2 linked regions of the Homo sapiens genome follow. The protein of the gene in region 2 interacts with the protein of the main gene of each other region in a pairwise test. Each region holds a gene or a part of one and is shown on either strand. Other genes may lie near its edges.

Region 1 (3,652 bases), on a different chromosome or scaffold from region 2:
TGCAGAAAATCCTGCCAAAGGCAGAGTCTGCAAGCTTTTCTCCAGACCTAGGACACAACTGTGGCCCACCCCACCACACCCTGCACCCCACCACACCCTGCACAGTATGGGCAGGGCAGCCAGCAGGGAAGAGGACATTCTCTCCACAGGTGATACCGTCACTTTGTAATGATCCATAAAAAGGGGAAGGCTAATTTCTACCTAAGAGTCCTAGTGTGGTCAAGAAGAGACCATGTACCATGGGGTGGGCCACTTTCTAACGGACCCTTCCCCTTGAGGAGTGAGAGTCAGAGCCGGAAGTAGGCTGGAGTGAGTATTTCACCTGTCCACTGCCAGCAATGGACCTGTCACAGGACAAAGTGGGGCAGGGGAACCAAGGTGCCAATGCCCATGAGTGTGGCAGGGTTAATACTGTTTAAGGAGTGAGCTCAAAGGGTCAGCCTTGCTGGGAGGAGTTTGGGGAGAGGGGCAGCCCTGAGGTTCTGCTACCAGGGCTGAGGCTCTGGCAGAACCAGAACTGATACCCTCCCACAAAGGAGGCTCCAAGGAGCCTTCCACAGCTGCAAGGTCCTCCTCTCTTTCTTCCTCTCATTCTCCATCAGTCTCCAATGCTGGATACCTGGCTTCTCCATCCCATAGAAAGCTAGACTGCTCAGTTTTGGCTTGAAAATAAACCAGGCAGGGAATAGATGACCTAGAACTCTGGCTTTTCCCCACCAAACTGACTTGCCTCTAGGTCCCCACTGTGGATCCACAGGGCCTAACCCAGCCTGCCTGTGCATTGGAGGGCATCATTTGTTCTCAGCTGAGCCACTGAGAAGGGAGCACTGCCACAGCCCACTAGACCGGGGGTAGGGAGGTGTAACTCAGGAACTCCCCAGGCATCAGGCCAGCCGGAACAGTGGAGGGAAGGGCTGCAAGGGGGTGAGGGTTGGGGGTGTCTCAGGGCTTCATCTCCGGCAGCTCCTGTGCTGGCTAGGGAGCTGGGGTGGGGCAGGTGTGGCGACCGACGTGGATAAAGAGCCGCTAGTGGTAAAGGCTTTGAAAACAAGACAGAAAAGGGGGAAACGCCACCGAACACACGGGGATTGAAACCTCCAAAAGCCCAAGGTTGGTGGGAATCCAGCACCACGGGGGCCCCAGAAGGCCAAGGGAGCAGCGCAGGGCCCTGGGGGAGGGGAGAGGAGCCAAGGGAGGGTCTCCCAGCCCTTGCAGACCAGCGTTGCTGCCACGCAGCCTCCTGGCTGCCCAGTCTCTCCTCGGCTGCAGCTCAGCAGGCCCCTGGGGAGGTATTGGTTGCAAGCAAGCACCTGAATATTGCCTAATGGAACCAGCCAAAGCTCAACTAAATCCAGATCGGAGGGAGGGAGGTCAGGCCTTGCCTCCCACCTGCGGCCCCATTCTCATTGTCCCTTGGCCAGGACAGGGCCTGCTGCTTCCAAAGTCAACTACATAGTCCATCGCTGCTCAGCCACAGGCCTCCTGGTACCAACCCCTGAACTGGGCCGCGATCCATGGACCCTTCCCAATGTCCCTCTGCTGCCTCCACACCCCATCCCCCAACACCTGACCACGGCCCCCCAACACCGGCCCCCGCGGACGTTAGGGGGCTCTGTGTGCCCTATAGGGCTGAGGCTTGGCCGGAGCAGGGCTTTTGCTGCATGGATGGGGCAACCTCACCAGCTTGGTCTCTTTGTCCATGAGTTCCATGAGAGATCCCCAGGCCCCCCACCCGCTTCCTGCTCAGTCAGTCTTGACATGGCCGTTGGCCAGGGCTAGGGCGCCGCTGGGCTCCCCGGGCTCAGCGTCCTTGTCGAAGCGGAGGCGGAGGGTGTTGCGGATGATGAACTGCTCCATGATGAGGGCCCCGCAGAACCAGGGCACGGCGTACTCCAGGGTGATGAGGCCCATGAAGTCAAAGTCGAACTGGGAGTAGTCCCAGGGGCAGGCGTTGAACTGGCGCAGGATGAAGCCGGTGGTGAACTCCCACAGGTAGGTCCAGAGCGTGTAGATGAGGCAGCGCAGGAGCAGCGGGCAGCGGCCGCGCAGCCGCAGGTACATGCGCTCCACGATGAGGATGGAGGTGCCGTAGATGAAGAGGGCCCACACGCTCGTGACCCCAGGGAACTTCCAGTTCAAGTTCACCACGAACTCCCAGGCCGCTGTGAACATCACCTCGCAGAAGTAGCCGTGGATGGCATACAGGTACCAGCGGGACAGCGCCGTCAGGGGCTCGGCAGACGCCATGGCGCCGACTGGGGCTGGCTGCGGGGGGCGCAAGAGAGACAGGTGAGGGCCGGGCGCGGTGGCTCACGCCTATAATCCCTGCGCTTTGGGAGGCCGAGGCGGCGGATCACTTGAGGTCAGGAGTTCCAAACCAGCCTGGCCATCATGGTGAAACCCCGTCTCTACTAAAAATACAAAAATTAGCCTGGCGTGGTGGCCCGCTCCTGTAATCCCAGCTACTTGGGAAGCTGAGGCAGAAGAATCGCTTGAACCCGCAAGGCAGAGGTTGGAGTGAGCCAAGATTGCGCCACTGCACTCCAGCCTGGGAGACAGAGTGAGACTCTGTCTCCAAAAAAACAAAACAAAAAAAAAACAGAGCAAAGAACAGAATAACCCACCCACCCCACTGACTTCTCTGCAACTCTACCCAAATGCTACTTAGAGGGAGGTGTCTGTACTCCCTAGAGCTTTTTTGGATTATCTGTGGTCAGTTGAAGAGTCGGCTGGCCTGCTGCACCAATCAGCCCCATTTCTAGACTACTTGCTGATTTCTCAGCAGGCCTATCCACTGGGGACCCCATTTCTTCCTCCACTTCTTCTCAAACAGTTCCATGTCACTCATATTTCTGAGATGTAAGTGACTCATCACATTTGTCCTTGTGTGTGTGCATGCCATTTTTTAACCATGTGTAAGTGTACAATTCAGTGGTCTTAAGTACATTCACATTGTTGTGCAACTGTCACCACCAACCATCTCCAGAACTTTTTCATTGTCCCAAACAGAAACTTTGTATCCATTAAATACAAACTCCCATTCCCCATACCCTCAGCCCCTGGCAACCACTATTCTATTTTCTGTCTCTATGAATTTGACTACTCTGGGTGCCTCATATAAGTGGAATCATACAAACACTGTCCTTTTGTGACTGGCTTAGCATAACTGGCTTAGCTTTCACTTAGCCTAATGTCTTTAAGGTTCATCCATGTTGCAGCACATGTCAGAATTTCCTTCTTTTTTTTTTTTTTTTTTTGTGACGGAGTCTCGCTCTGTCGTCCAGGCTGGAGTGCAGTGGCGCAATCTTGGCTCACTGCAACCTCCGCCTCCTGGGTTCAAGCGATTCTCCTGTCTCAGACTCCTGAGTAGCTGGGACTACAGGCACACACCATCATGCCCGGCTAATTTTTGAATTTTAGTAGAGACGAGGTTTCACCATGTTGCCCAAGCTGGTCACAAGCCCCTGAGCTCAGGTGATCCGCCCGCCTTGGCCTCCCAAAGTGCTAGGATTACAGGCGTGAGCCACTGTGCCCAGCCAGAATTTCCTTCCTTTTAAAGGCGGAATCATATTCCATTGTATATATCACCATATTTTGTTTATCCATTCATCCATTGATGGACACCTGGGTTGCTTCTACCTTTTGGCTACTC
Region 2 (3,752 bases):
TTCACTCTTGTTGCCCAGGCTGGAGTACAATGGCACCATCTCGGCTCACTGCAACCTTCACCTTCCAGGTTCAAGCAATTCTCCTGCCTCAGCCTCCCGAGTAGTTGGGACTACAGGCATGTGCCACCACACCCGGCTAATTTTGAATTTTTAGTAGAGACAGGGTTTCTGCATGTTGGTCAGGCTGGTCTCGAACTCCCGACCTAAGGTGATCCACCTGCCTCAGCCTCCCAAAGTGCTGGGATGACAGGCCTGAGCCACCGTGTCTGGCCAGTATTTGGTTTTCTGTTTCTGTGTTAACTCGCTTAGGATAATGGCCTCTAGCTGCATCCATGTTGCTGCAAAGGACATAATCTTGTGATTTTTCAAGGCTGTATAGCGTTCTGTGGTGTATACATATCACATTGTCTTTATCCAGTCCACCTCTGATGGGACCTGGGTGGATTCCATGTCTTCACTATTGTGAATCCTGCTGCAATGAACATACAAGTGCATGTGTCTTTTTGGTAGAATGATTTATTTTCCTTTGGCTATATACCCAGCGATGGGATTGCTGGGCTGAATGGTAACTCTGTTTGTAGTTCTCTGAAATATCTCCAAACCAAACTGCTTTCCACAGTGGCTGAACTAATTTACACCCACCAACAGTGTATAAGTGTCCCCTTTGCTCCACAATCTCACCAGCATCTGTTAATTTCTGGCTTTTCAGTAATGGCCATTCTGACTGGTGTGAGATGGTATTGTTGAGGGATAATTTAGGAATCAGAGAGACCGAGGGGTTGAGGAGGATTTATTATTATTATTATTATTTAGGTGCACCGGCCCCAGTCAGATTAACATCCAAAAAGACTGAGGCTCGAACAGAGAGTCCGGTTACCTTTTAAGCATTTTGTGGGGTTGGGGGAGATCTGTGCAGGGGGAAGCATATTACAGAAGCAAGAAACAAAGGCAGTTATTCAATTGAGACATGCATCACATTATTCCTTACTTTTCAAGAAAAATATGTTTTACGACTTGAGGTTATCCTGTCTAGTGACCTTGCAGCCGCACGGCAAGAGAAACAGGGTCTTCACAATGCCTGGGAAAGGGAGAGATAAGGCTCACTAGCCACAGACAGAAAAACAGGCAGTTCATGTTTAAAGGACTCCACCTCTTTCTCTTCCTCGGGGGGAACTGGGTTTTCTTAAATACAACTGAGTTTTTGTTTACACATTCTGTAATTTCTTTTAATTCCTGTTCCAGTATCTCACTGTGAAACTCCCTATGTTTTTATACGATTCTCAGGGGGTTTCCTCTGGGCATGATTGGGCACAACTTCCCACAGTCAGCTCTGGGTACGACCTCCACATTGCAGAATTGAGAAGTTGACCCAGAAATGCATTTTGGGCTGAGCAGACAATTGTCAGAGTTGCTGGCTAGACCACAGATGTGTCAGAGGGACCACGGCCTTTCTGTAAGCTCATGGTCAGAGGCGGAGGGGAGTTGTGAACGTTCTGATGAAAGCAGTCAACGTGAAAGCGCTCTGGTGATGGGCGCTGGTGCTCACCCACCACTTCCTGTGTATCTATCTCCCTGGCCCGCCCGGCTCAGTCCCCACTGCTCAGCACTAGGCCGGCAGAATCTGAGCGATGTCTTCCACACTCCCTGCCCTGCTCTGCGTCGGTGAGTTCTGGCGTGGAAGGGGAATGGGATCACGGTGTGCCTGGGAGGCAACAGGTCTCATTACTCCCGTCTTCCAGGGCTGTGTCTGAGTCAGAGGATCAGCGCCCAGCAGCGTGAGTCCTTCCTTCAAAGCCCAGGGTCACTCTTCCGGATTCAGGCCAAGCTCCTTCCACCCAAGCACGGCTGGGGTGAGGGGACAGGGTGCTGGCTTCCCAGGAGAGCTTGGGGCCAGCAGCTGGGTGGAGCCTAAGGTTGGGGGGAGGGGGCTCCGCTGGAACTCCAGCCTCTGATTCCCTTCCAGAGACTCTCCCAAAACCGTTCATCTGGGCCGAGCCCCATTTCATGGTTCCAAAGGAAAAGCAAGTGACCATCTGTTGCCAGGGAAATTATGGGGCTGTTGAATACCAGCTGCACTTTGAAGGAAGCCTTTTTGCCGTGGACAGACCAAAACCCCCTGAGCGGATTAACAAAGTCCAATTCTACATCCCGGACATGAACTCCCGCATGGCAGGGCAATACAGCTGCATCTATCGGGTTGGGGAGCTCTGGTCAGAGCCCAGCAACTTGCTGGATCTGGTGGTAACAGGTAACTGTCCGGTTCTCTAACTGGAGAGTGATCTCAGTCTGCATCCGGGATGCAGCATCATCTATGAACTCTTCCAAGCCCCACTCAGACACTGCTTGTCTCGGTAGGAGGCTGGAAGGAGGGGTGATCCCCATCACAATCCTTGCCTACAAGGGGTTGTCTGCAGACCGTGTCTCTACGTCCTAGGAGCAGATGTGTCCTCAGTCAGTTTCTCCATGACACAGATTCTGAGATAGATATTTGTATGCAGGGGTATGACTGAGGAATGTCCTCAAAAACAATGCCTGTGGGCCAGGCGCAGTGGCTTACACTTTGCTTCCCTCACCCATCACAGGTGGTGGGTTTTTTTTTTTTTTATCTGTTTTGAGACGGAGTTTCGCTCTTGTCACCCAGGCTGGAGTGCAGTGGTGCAATCTCCAGTCACTGCAACCTCCACCTCCTGGGTTCAAGTGATTCTCCAGCCTCAGCTTCCCAAGTAGCTGGGATCACAGGCACCCACCACTACGCCACATTTTGTATTTTTAGTAGAGATGGGGTTTCACCATGTTGGCCAGGGTGGTGTCGAACTCCTGACCTCAGATGATCCGCCCGCCTCACCCTCCCAAAGTGCTGGGATTACAGGTGTGAGCCATCACACCCAGCCAGGTGGTGGTTTTCTAAAAAAAAAAAAAAATTAGCTTTTTTTTTTTTTTAACAATATGGTTGTTTATTATTATTATCAAGTATTATACATAGTTACATATACATACATAATTGTATGTGCTATACAATTAGGTTTGTTTATACCAGCAACACCAAAAACACATGAGCAATACTTTGTGCTAGGAAGGCTATGATGTCATCAGGCAATAGGAATTTTTCAGTTTCATTATAATCTTATGGGACCACCATCATATATGTGGTACATTGTTGGCCAAAATGTCATTATGCAGCTCACAACAGTATTTCATGTCCATTCAAATATCTTCTTTTGTGAAATGTCTATTTAAATCTTTTGCCTATTTTTAAATTGGGTTGCTTATATTTTGATTGATTAGGAAAAGTTATTTCTATATTCTGTGTCATATACTTGTGTTGAAATATATATATTTTTTGTCTGTGCCTTTTCATTTGCTCAGGGTCTTTGGACCTTGTTTGGAGGTTCTGGCAGGGGAACACAGCTACTCATTTATTCTTTTTTTTTTAATTTTTTTAGTATTTATTGATCATTCTTGGGTGTTTCTCGGAGAGGGGGATTTGGCAGGGTCATAGGACAATAGTGGAGAGAAGGTCAGCAGATAAACATGTGAACAAAGGTCTCTGGCTTTCCTAGGCAGAGGTCCCTGCGGCCTTCCGCAGTGTTTGTGTCCCTGGGTACTTGAGATTAGGGAGTGGTGATGACTCTTAAGGAGCATGCTGCCTTCAAGCATCTGTTTAACAAAGCACATCTTGCACCGCCCTTAATCCATTTAACCCTGAGTGGACACAGCACATGTTTCAGAGAGCACGGGGTTGGGGGTAAGGT

The links.
Region 1: the proteins of NCR1 (region 2) and TMEM229B interact in binary tests that used the Homo sapiens proteins (3 or more experiments, as listed by UniProt).

Annotation. Positions count from the first base shown.
Region 1 is NC_000014.9:67,471,677-67,475,328, forward strand, and holds part of TMEM229B (transmembrane protein 229B), read right to left. Parts: intron 2,266-3,652; 5' UTR 2,262-2,265; coding exon of another isoform or gene 2,248-2,261; coding exon 1,744-2,247; 3' UTR 1-1,743.
Region 2 is NC_000019.10:54,904,560-54,908,311, forward strand, and holds the start of NCR1 (natural cytotoxicity triggering receptor 1 isoform a precursor), read left to right. Parts: upstream 1-1,588; 5' UTR 1,589-1,628; coding exon 1,629-1,662; intron 1,663-1,739; coding exon 1,740-1,775; intron 1,776-1,963; coding exon 1,964-2,248; intron 2,249-3,752.